Linked DNA regions of Homo sapiens: region 2 is linked to region 1. Evidence: fine-mapped expression QTL. A gene starts in region 1. The other region holds a variant in brackets. All regions are shown on one strand. Distances are from middle to middle. Region 1 holds the start of CCNB1IP1 (cyclin B1 interacting protein 1). Region 2 overlaps TEP1 (telomerase associated protein 1).

The links. PIP is the estimated chance that this variant, and not a neighbour inherited with it, causes the effect.
Region 2: its variant is fine-mapped to the expression of CCNB1IP1 in T cells (TOPMed, PIP 0.97).

What each region holds. Positions count from the first base shown.
Region 1 is chr14:20,331,276-20,336,657 of GRCh38, forward strand. It overlaps CCNB1IP1 (cyclin B1 interacting protein 1), which reads right to left and starts at 2,004. Exons shown (of 7, transcript NM_021178.5): 1 at 1,979-2,004. RefSeq lists an enhancer at 1,774-2,083.
Region 2 is chr14:20,364,051-20,369,432 of GRCh38, forward strand. It overlaps TEP1 (telomerase associated protein 1), which reads right to left. Exons shown (of 55, transcript NM_007110.5): 53 at 5,294-5,382; 54 at 4,748-4,852; 55 at 1,617-4,509. The coding sequence ends at 4,387. Among named protein-coding and RNA genes, the nearest start is that of PARP2, 23 kb to the left of the region's middle. The variant A/G (reference allele first, on the strand shown) is at 2,600.

The DNA of each region.
Region 1 (5,382 bases):
GGCCACTGCTGTCACTCCTTCCCAGCATTAAACACATGCTCATAACAAGATAAACCATCCCCACTCAAACCAAAGTGGGCAAAGATATATTCACATAAAAGCCATCAAGATGATTTTCCTTTCGGTAGAAAATCCTTTATTGCTCAATCAAGTTTAGAGTATTGATTGGTTTCTAATCACCACCGTGTACAAAATAAATATAAATAGGAAGCACTGCAAAATATCTAGAGTCCTTTTAAACAAGAATATACCAAAACCCAATTGAAATGCCTTTATGCCAACTGACTGATTTACAAGGTTATTCATTTGAGGGGGAAATATCAAGATCATAAACTATCTGAATACCTACTGATAAAAGCTAAATAAATTATAGTAGGTACATAAATTAGAATACTGAGTTACCATTATACCCTGAAAACCTACTGAAAAAATATATTTTTTAAAAAAAATAATTTTTAAAGAATACTATGTTACCATTATGAAGAATGTGAACACTCTACTCATGGAACTTAAGTGGAAAAAGTAAGACACATAGTAGAGTAGGTATAGTAAAAGGGAAGGATACCTACACATATTTGCTTATATGCATAAAATATCTTAGTAACACTGTTATGAGGGAGAGGAATTGGATGGCTTAGGGAAGGGGATAAGAAACTTTGATATCTTTTGAATTTTGAACCATGTGAATGTATTACCTATTCAAAAATATATATATATATGATGTGTATACATATATATATATATATATATATTTTTTTTTTTTTTTTTTTTTTTTTGAGACAGAGTTTCGCTCTTGTTGCCCAGGCTGGAGTGCAATGGCGCGATCTCGGCTCACCGCAACCTCCACCTCCCGGGTTCAAGCGATTCTCCTGCCTCAGCCTCCCGAGTAGCTGGGATTACAGGCATGCGCCGCCATGCCCCAAAAAATAAATTTTAACAATGCTTGAGAATTATAAAAATTATGGGAGGCCTACAAATACCTATTACTACATTCGATTAACTGGTTTATTATTTGTCTTTCTCACACTTTCTGCCTATAAGAATATCCAACACAAACATCACATTAAAATTAACATGTACCAAAAGAAAGGAATTCAGTGAAATGACATTGAAGGTCACTAAGCAAACTTTTTATGAGAAAACAGATATCCAAAATACTTGCTGTAAATAAATAAGTACTGCTTACTTCTAAAGGTACCTAACATTTATTACACACCAACTAGAGCCTAGTTTTTATATATTTTATCTGATCTTGGAAAGCTAAGCCTCGGAATGGCTCACTGCTTCTCCCAAGGTCACCAGAGCTGTAAACTGTGGCGCTGGAATTTAAATCTAGAGGCTTGCCCTGAACTAAGGTCCCTAATCTTTTTCCATAGCTTTTAAGGACACAATCACCACAGTGGCAACATTAAAAATTAGGAGCTCCTTTTAAGGCTTATCTGTCTTCAGAGTTTGCTGCCCAGGTTCACCAAGAAAGCCGAAATGATCTGAGCGAAGGCCAGGAGAAAGACAAGGTACGCTGCAGCTTCCACAAACCCAGTAAGGACCTGGGCCCTCTAGACACTCACCGGAGAATTAAACTCTACTGAGCTGAACGCCTTCTCCCGAAATCTGACCTCACCCAGGGAGATATAAATCAAAACAGCATTAGGATGATAATATCTTTCCCGCCAAGCAAAATGAAGCCGGCGTTTTCCAAGAACACACGCACTGTGCACATGAAGCACAGTCTATTGTTCCTGGGTCACCAGGACTCGGAGACGGAAGGCAAACCCAGTACTGCAGAGGCCCACGTGGAAACAAGCCAGGAAGAGCATTTCACTGCCTTCTCCCAACCTCCACACAGCCGAAATTAATCTCCTTGCGACTCACACACACTCCTATGCCGACTTGAAATAAAGGCCTGCCACCTGGGTATATAACTCAAATGGAAGAGAAATTCAAAACAATTAGAGAGCAAAATTAAGCGCACACTCACCAGCCCACCAAAACGGAGAGGGAAAGAAAGTGGAGAGACAGGAAGTCGCCTTGGGAAGTGTCTTCAGAACCTGATTGGCTAATGAGTTCAAGAGGATTCCCTCCTCCTTTACCTTAAAAGGTGCTGAAATGACGTAACCCACTCCACCCCTCTTTATGGACCAGTGATGCTTCTTGCACTATTTTTGGAGTGAACTTCTTAAACCGAGTTTCCTTTTGAGTTAATGTACTTAGGCAAAAACAGGCTAATTTAAGCTATTTATACACGTTGTTGTTTGCGTGGGCCTACTGCATTCTATTCTAAAGAATTTTCATCCCTTAAGGGTAATTTCTTATCCTTTGTGACCTCAACATGCTTAACTTATGCTAGGCAACAGATTCCATTATAAACAGTCTAGATCGATTCAAGTTAAAATTTACCTTCATTTTTTCCCCCCAGATCCAAAGCTGGCCTGATAAAATTTACCTTCAGGTAATCTTTGAACTAACAGGCTTAGTAGATAAAAGGTAGGTGGGTTAAGTGTTTTAGGCTTCAAATAAAATTTAGCTGATTTTGAATCTGAACCTTGCCACTTATTTGCACACATCTAAGCCTCAGTTCCAACTATAAAAAGAGGGAAAAAAGATGAAATCTTCCTACTCTGATGGTTATGAGGATTAAGTAAAATAATTTATATAATGTACTCAGTACAATGCCCGGTACACAGTACTCAACAATGTTAGCTGTTATTATTGTTATTACATATTTCTTGTTAGATTTATATTCCCAAGTAGACTATAAACAACTGGAGATCAAAGTGTACGTTTTACACATCTCCAGACAAAAACAATGACTTTCAATGCTGAGGACATAATTGATTAATCAATTATTTTGACTCCTCACATCGCCCTCCAGTTAAAGTATAGGTTCTTACTCTGTTAAATTTTTTTTTTTTTTGAAACAGGGTCTCACTTCGTGTCCCAGGCTGGAGTGCAGTGGTGAAATCTCGACTCACTGTAGCCTTGACCTCCCAGGTTCAAGCGATCTCCTGCCTCAGTAAGTAGCTGGGACTACAGGCGTGCACCATCACACCCAGCTAATTTTTGTATTTTTTTGTAGAGATGGGGTTTCGCCATGTTGCCCAAGCTGAAAGATTTCTTTTTAAGCCATAATTAGAGGACTCCCCGGCACAATATTCATCATTATTCTTAATAAATACTATTATAGTAATAGGGAATATATATACAAGTATGTGTTATATGTACAAATATACATGTAATGTGCAAATGTTTGAAGTATAAAGATTCAAGTTATATGGAGAAATGATACAACTCTAACTCATAGTAGTTCTCATTTTTTAATCATTTCATCCTATCCACCCTGCTTCCACCTTACTAGAAATTACCTATTCCAATCCACTTTAGAGTTTACCTGCCCCAAATTTCCCAACATTTAGCATCAAATGCTAATTTGTTATTTCATAATTGATTTATTGTAACTTCTAGAGTCAAAACATTTCTTGAATGTTTACTATAAATATTCAAGAAATGTAATATTCATTACCTTGTTTAATCTTCACATTAACCCAAGAATGTAAGCACTTTCATTATAACTATTTCACCAAAAAAAAAAAAAAAAAAAAGGAAACAGAGTTATAGAGATTAAGGAATTTGTCTATTTAGCAAGTGGTAAAGTCAGGATTCAGATCCCAGTTGCTATGGTTTGACTGTCCCCTTCAAAATTCATGTTGTCACTCTAGTTTCTCTTCATATCGCATAAATCTTTCACCTTTTACAAAATTCATGTTGAAACTTAATCCCTAAAGTGGCTGAAACTTAATCCTCATTAGAAGTGGGGCCTTCAAGAGGTGACTGGATCATGAGGGTTCTGCCCTCATAAATAAATTAATCTATTCATGGATTAATAGGTTATCATGGGAGGGGAACTAGTGGCTTTAAAGAAAAGGCAAAGAGACTTAAGGATAGCATGTTAGCAGTCTCAGCATCCTGGCCATGTGATTTCCTGCCACGCCTTGGAACATCACAGCGAGTCCCCTCCAGCAAGAAGGAGTTCAGATGCAACCCAGAGGCAGTCCTTAACCTTGGACTTCACAGCATCCATAACTGCAAAAAATAAATTTCTTTTTTAAAATAAATTACCCCACAGCCTAGCCAACATGGCAAAACCTCGTCTCTACTAAAAATACAAAAATTAGCTGAGCATGGTGGTATGGGCTTGTAGTCCCAGCTACTCAGGAAGCTGAGGTGGGAGGATCGATCACTTGAACCCGGGAGGCGGAGGTTGCAGTGAACCAAGATTGTGCCACTGCAGTCCAGCCTGAGTGACAGAGTGAGGCCCTGTCTCAAAAACTAACTAAATAAATAAATAAACCAGGCTTGGTGTGATGGCTTAGACCTGTAATCCTAGCACTTTGGGAGGCCGAAGCAGGTGGATCTCTTGAAGCCAGGAGTTCGAGACCAGCCTGGCCAACATGTCGAAACCCCATCTCTACTAAAAATACAAAAAATTAGCCAGGCATGGTGGTGCACACCTGTAATCCCAGCTACTTGGGAGGCCGAGGCAGGAGAATCGCTTGAACTAATGAGGTGTAGGTTTGGAGTACCGCTATACTCCAGCCTGGGAGACAGAGCAAGACTTTGTATCCAAAAAATAAATTAATTAAAAAACAAACTAATAAATAAGTGACCCAGTTTCAGGTATTCTGTTATAAGCAACAGAAAACAAACTGAGACAGCAGCCATCCAACTTGACAGCCCAAACTCAACCACCACATTGCACTGCTTCCTATATTGTGTGATTTCAGAAAACCTTAGAAAGTACAATATTCTTTTCAAATTCCCATTAAATATCTAACATTTCTTTATGATATTCTGTATTCCAGGCTTTAATACTTATAATAATCCATGATGAAATTCTCTTCAGCTGGTAACATCAAAATTTTGTGCTCTGTAAAATAACTTTGAAATTGTTTAAAAGTCGATAGATTCCTGGGGCCAGGTGTGGTAGGTCACATCTGTAGTCCCAATACTTGGTAGGTGGAGGCAGAAGGAGCGCTTGAGCCCAAGAGTTTGAGGGCAGCCTGGGCAGCATGGTAAAACAACTGTCTCTACAAACAATAAAAATAAAAAATTGCCAAGAGTGGTGATGCCTCTATAGTCCCAGCTACTAAGGTAGGCTGAGTCGGGAAGAGAGCATGAGCCCAGAAGGTAGAGGTTGTAGTGAGCTGTGTTTACACCACTGCACTCTAGCCTGGGCAACAGAGTGAGACCCTGTTTCAAAAAAAAGTAGATTCCTGGGACACACGTTCAGAGATTCTAATTCAGTGGGTGGGACTCAGGAATATGTATTTTAATAAGCACCCTCAGGTACTTCCGGTAGATTTGAGGCTCACCCTTTGGAGAACA
Region 2 (5,382 bases), 33 kb after region 1:
TTACAGGTGCATGCCACCACGCCCAGCTAATTTTTATATTTTTAATAGAGACAGGGTTTCACCATGCTGGCCAGACTGGTCTTGAACCCCTGACCTCAGGTGATCTGCTCTCCTCAGCCTCCCAAAGTGCTGGGATTACAGGCTTGAGCCACTGCGCCCAGCCTAAATCTTACATTATTAAAAAAGAAGGATTAAGAGCCATTCTAGTGGGAAAGCACCAACACAGATATGTTCTTTGGGGATGTCATCTGTGTATTGGCTCCTGGTTCTTCTTTCAGACACATCGTAGGATACTTCCTCCCCATCCCTTGACATTAGGTATGGCCACGTGACTTGCTTTGCTTGTATTTATTAAATATGAGTGGAAGTGATGTGTTTTATTTCCAAGTGGAAGATTGAAGAGTTACTCGCCACGTGAAGCACAGAGCTCAAAATATGCGCAAAGTAGAGCAGGGCCTTCTCGCTGACCCTTAACGGGCCATGTGGCATGATTTAGAAATAAATCTTTGCTATTTTAAGTTGTTGAGATTTTGGGGTTGTTATGATAGCATAACTTTAATATTTTAACTGATAAAGAAACATACCCATCGTTCTGGATGAGAAGATTAGGTATTTGGAGGGTGGGAGGAGGGAGAAGATCAAGAAAAACAACTAATGGGTACTAGGCTTAATACCCGGGTGATGAAATAAACTGTACAACAAACCTCCATGACACAAGTTTACCTATGTAACAGACCTGCACTTGTACCCCTGAACTTAGAAAGAATACGAGTTTCACATTTTTTTGAAAACTAAAAAATTCGGTCCAGATTTTCTGATTGATTAAATATATACTAATAAATAAGACATTTATGAGAAAGAATAATGAGGTGATACTCGTACTGCTAGGTAACAAAAAGAACAGTCAAGTTAGCACTTATTGAATACTTACCACAAAAGTGTCACTGTTCTGTGTTTTACACCTTAACTCATTTAGTCCTTAAAACACTCCCATGAAGTAAGCACCATTATTATGGCTGTTGTACAAATGGGGGAAAGGAGGCATGAAGATTTGAACTCAGGCAGTCTTATTCCAAGTCCATGCTTTTTGCTGCTGTTACCCAGTCTCTCTAGAGTAGTGCTTCTCAAACCTTCTGAGATGAAGGACTAATTGTTCCTTTGTCTTTCTTTCTTCCTTCCTGCCTCCCTCCCGCCCTCCCTCTCTCTTTCTTGCTTTCTTTTTTTTCTTTTTTTTTTTTTTTTGACCAAGTTTCATTCTTGTTGCCCAGCCTGGAGTGCAATGATGCGATCTCGGCTCACTGCAACCTCTGCCCCCTGAGTTCAAGCGATTCTCCTGCCTCAGCCCCCCAAGTAGCTGGGATTACAGGTGCCTGCCACCATGCCCAGCTAATTTTTTGTATTTTTAGTAGAGACGGGGTTTCACCATATTGGCCAGGCTCGCCTCGAACTCCAGACCCCAGGTGATCCACCCGCCTTGGCCTTTCAAAGTGCTGGGATTATAGGCGTGAGCCACCGTGCCTGGCCTGTTTTAATTTCTTATCTGTCACGGAATAATACTTTTATAAAATATAATCAAAATGGATTATTAAGAAAATGAAATTAAAAAGCACACAAAATACAAGCCTCCATTTTTATTATTAAATTTGTCAGATATTACTTTTTAAATTCCTACACAGTTTCTAAATGGTTACTCTCAACTTCCGTACTTATCTCATTATAAAACATTAACAATTTGTGAACTGGCACTAGTCCATGAACCAAACTTTGAGTACCTCTGCTCTAGATTTCAAAAACAGATGTGGATATATGTGTAAAAATTTGGTATATAAAAAAGATGCTTTTCTAGATGGGTAGAAGAAAAGATTGTTCAAATGTCCTATGGTCTCACAATCCAGTGGTTATAACTGTAAAACTCATCCAGCCTTTGGGAGACACTGAAACTCCATTTAAAGATAAGAACTTGAAGGATGTTTAATGTAAACCTAAATTGATTTTCCCTTCAACTCCTTTTGGGTACATAATTACTTTTACCTAGAAGCTGTTCTTGACTTTACTCATAACAATTATACCATGACCTCACTGTCCTTCTCCAAGATGAAACAAAAAACCCTTCAAGTGGGCCTGGCCAACAAGACTGAATCTATTGAGCCTATTGGTCAAGTTAGCCTTTGCTTAACTTTCCCCAACCCCTTCACTCCAGCCTTAGCTGGGATGCTTTTATATAATTTTCAGAGCATGGAAGAGAGACAAATAGAGCTTCCTCCTGCAATTGGCCCAAGATTTTAGGGGAGCAAAAGGCAAAAGATTGAAATCAATGACTAGGATGATGCCATGCCATAGTTCGCTGCAGGATTTCTGGCAAGGATTATGGATCATAAATTTCAAAATACCATAACTAGGACTTCTAGTCACAAGGTAGATGTGGAAATGATGGTCCAGAAGGTATATTTCGAGGCTTGGCATGAGGCACATAAGAGAAGACAGAAGCATGGCCTATCAGCGGATGTCATCATCCTCTGGTCAGGATGGAAACCAGGGCATTGGATAGAAATAAAGTCCCTCAGGTTATTTCTCCATGTAAAACCTGGAATCAGGGTAC[A/G]GTGAGAGTAAAACTCAGTGCCCTTTAACTCCCCAAGTCTTCAAAACTCATTTCTAGACCAGGGTGTAGTGGTATTTCTCCAAGAGAAACCTACCAAACCAGGACAAAATCCCTGTAATAGCCTTCACTTATCTCCTACAAGTCCTTGAATTCTTGGCCACAGAAGACATTTCCTTCTTCTTTAACCCTCAGAAAGAAAGGGCCTGAGGAAACTAAAGTCAGTGGTTTCAATCTTTTGCCTTTTGCTCTCCTAAAAGCATGGGCCAAGGGCAGGAGGAAGCTCTAGTTGTCTGTCTCCCATGCTCTGAAAATTCTACAAAACACCCCAGCTAAGGCTGGAGTAACAGAGGAGGAAAGTTAAGCAAAGGCTAACCTGCTCAATAGATTCTTCCATATGATTGAATTTTAGAAATATAATAAAGTTCTTTTATGGGCCGGGCACAATGGCTCACGCCTGTAATCCCAGAACTTTAAGAGGCTGAGGTGTGCAGATAACCTGAGGTCAGGAGTTTGAGACCCACCTGGCCAACATGGTGAAACTTCGTCTCTACTGAAATACAAAAATTAGCTGGGCGTGGTGGTGGGCACCTGTAATCCCAGCTACTCGGGAGGCTAAGGCAGGAGAATCGCTTGAACCCAGGAAGCAGAGGTTGCACTGAGCTGAGATTGCACCATTGCACTCCAGCCTAGGTGACAGAGCCAGACTCTATCTCAAAAACAAAAAAAAAAAAAAAAGGTTTTTTACTTAAGAAAATCAGAGTTCATGGCTATGATTGTGCCACCTCTCAATTAGTTTTAATCTTTGTGAATTTCAATTTGAGAGAGAGTAAGACACTTTCGTGATCTCTTCTGAGAATGCCAATTACCATATTGACTAAAGTTGAAAGTCGTGTCAGAAGTTGGGAAAACCAGAAGGTTTGTTCCGCTTTCAATGGCTTGGCTCCTCACCTCTCATCTGGGTAGTTCTTTTTTTTTTTTTTTAGACAGAGTCTCGCTCTGTTGCCCAGGCTGGAGTGCAGTGGTGTCTCGGCTCACTGCAAGCTCCGCCTCCTGGGTTCACGCCATTCTCCTGCCTCAGCCTCCCAAGTAGCTGGGACTACAGGTGCCCGCCGCCACACCTGGCTAACTTTTTGTATTTTTTAGTAGAGACAGGGTTTCACTATGTTAGCCAGGATGGTCTTGATCTCCTGACCTCGTGATCTGCCCACCTCGGCCTCCCAAAGTGCTGGGATTACAAGCGTGAGCCACCATGCCCGGCCTCCTCTGGGTAGTTCTGAGAAAAGGGCTGTCTCTGTGACAGAAACATAGCTCTTTCTAAATGCCCTGATGCATGACTGACTTATTCTCCCTCCCTCATTCTTTCCCGATGAACTGAAAGGTCTTCCATGCTCTGTTCAAATTGAATGTTGGCCAACATCACTCTCATTCCTCCTCCTGGCAAGAATGGCATCCTAGGGTCCTAGGGCCCGCGAGTGATGCAAGAATTCTAAAACCTAGTTTCAAAAGAGTACCTACTAAAGATTTCATTCACTTTCTTGTGGTTCTAGTAAGGATTAATGTTGAATAAGAAGAGACACACATTAGAATGTACATATACATACACATAGAATATCCTCCTGTTCTAAATCCACATGAGAACACAGGCAGGCCTACACTTGAGATTTTTTGACACTTCATTTTTATAATTATCAAGAAATTATTAATTTTATAATTATTAAAAGCTACCAGTGTCTTCAGGCTTTGCATCTCTAGCACAAGGGGTATCATTATTCCCGAGTGGCACATCTTCATTCCCAATTCAGAAAGTACACATTGCCCTGCACGTCTCCCACGGCAAGCTGCAGGGTGGAGTTAGCGCCCAGCCAAGGTTCCAGGCAGCTCACTGACCCTTCGCATCGGAACAGGCCCAGCTACGATGGGAACAAAAATAGGGGAGGTCAGGGCTACAAGCCTCCTTACTAACTTATTTTTTCTCACATTAATGCCTTTTATTTAGAAACAGGTTAGTCATACATTGCAAGTGATTGAAGAAAACAGAATTTTGATCTTTTGCCCTTTCTTACTCTAAGTTTGCTGTCTTGTGACATCCCTTTGGGATAGGTGTGCAGGCGCACGCACACACACACACACACACACACACACACTTACCAGCTGCATACTGGGTCTCTCCCATAGCTTAACATCTCTGTCCTTCGAAGCTGTCACCAGCAACTCAGGTAGCACATGGAGGGCTGTGACAGAGCCCGAGTGAATCTCAAAGAGGAAAGGGGAGAGCAGAATGGTGAGTTCTCAGGGGCCCCTCCTCAGAGAAGCATCACAATGTGCTGTGTCAGACCTACAGCCCTCCTCCCTTAGTATTTCTTTTTTTTTTTTTTGAGACAAGAGTCTCGCTCTGTCGCCCAGGCTGGAGTGCAGTGGCGCAATCTCGGCTCACCGCAAGCTCTGCCTCCCGGGTTCACACCATTCTCCTGCCTCAGACTCCCGAGTAGCTGGGACTACAGGCACCCGCCACCACGCCCAGCTAATTTTTTGTATTTTTTAGTAGAGATGGGGTTTCACCGTGTTAGCCAGGATGGTCTTGATCTCCTGACCTCATTATCTGCCCGCCTAGGCCTCCCAAAGTGCTGGGATTATAGGTGTGAGCCACTGCTCCCAGCCCTCCCCTAGTATTTCTGACCCTTCCTTCAAACTCACCTTTCTACGCTGCCGTGTCTTTAGATGTGGTGTTGGCTCACTATCCATGCTGGCATCACTATCCATGCTGGCATCAGATTCCCTGCAGG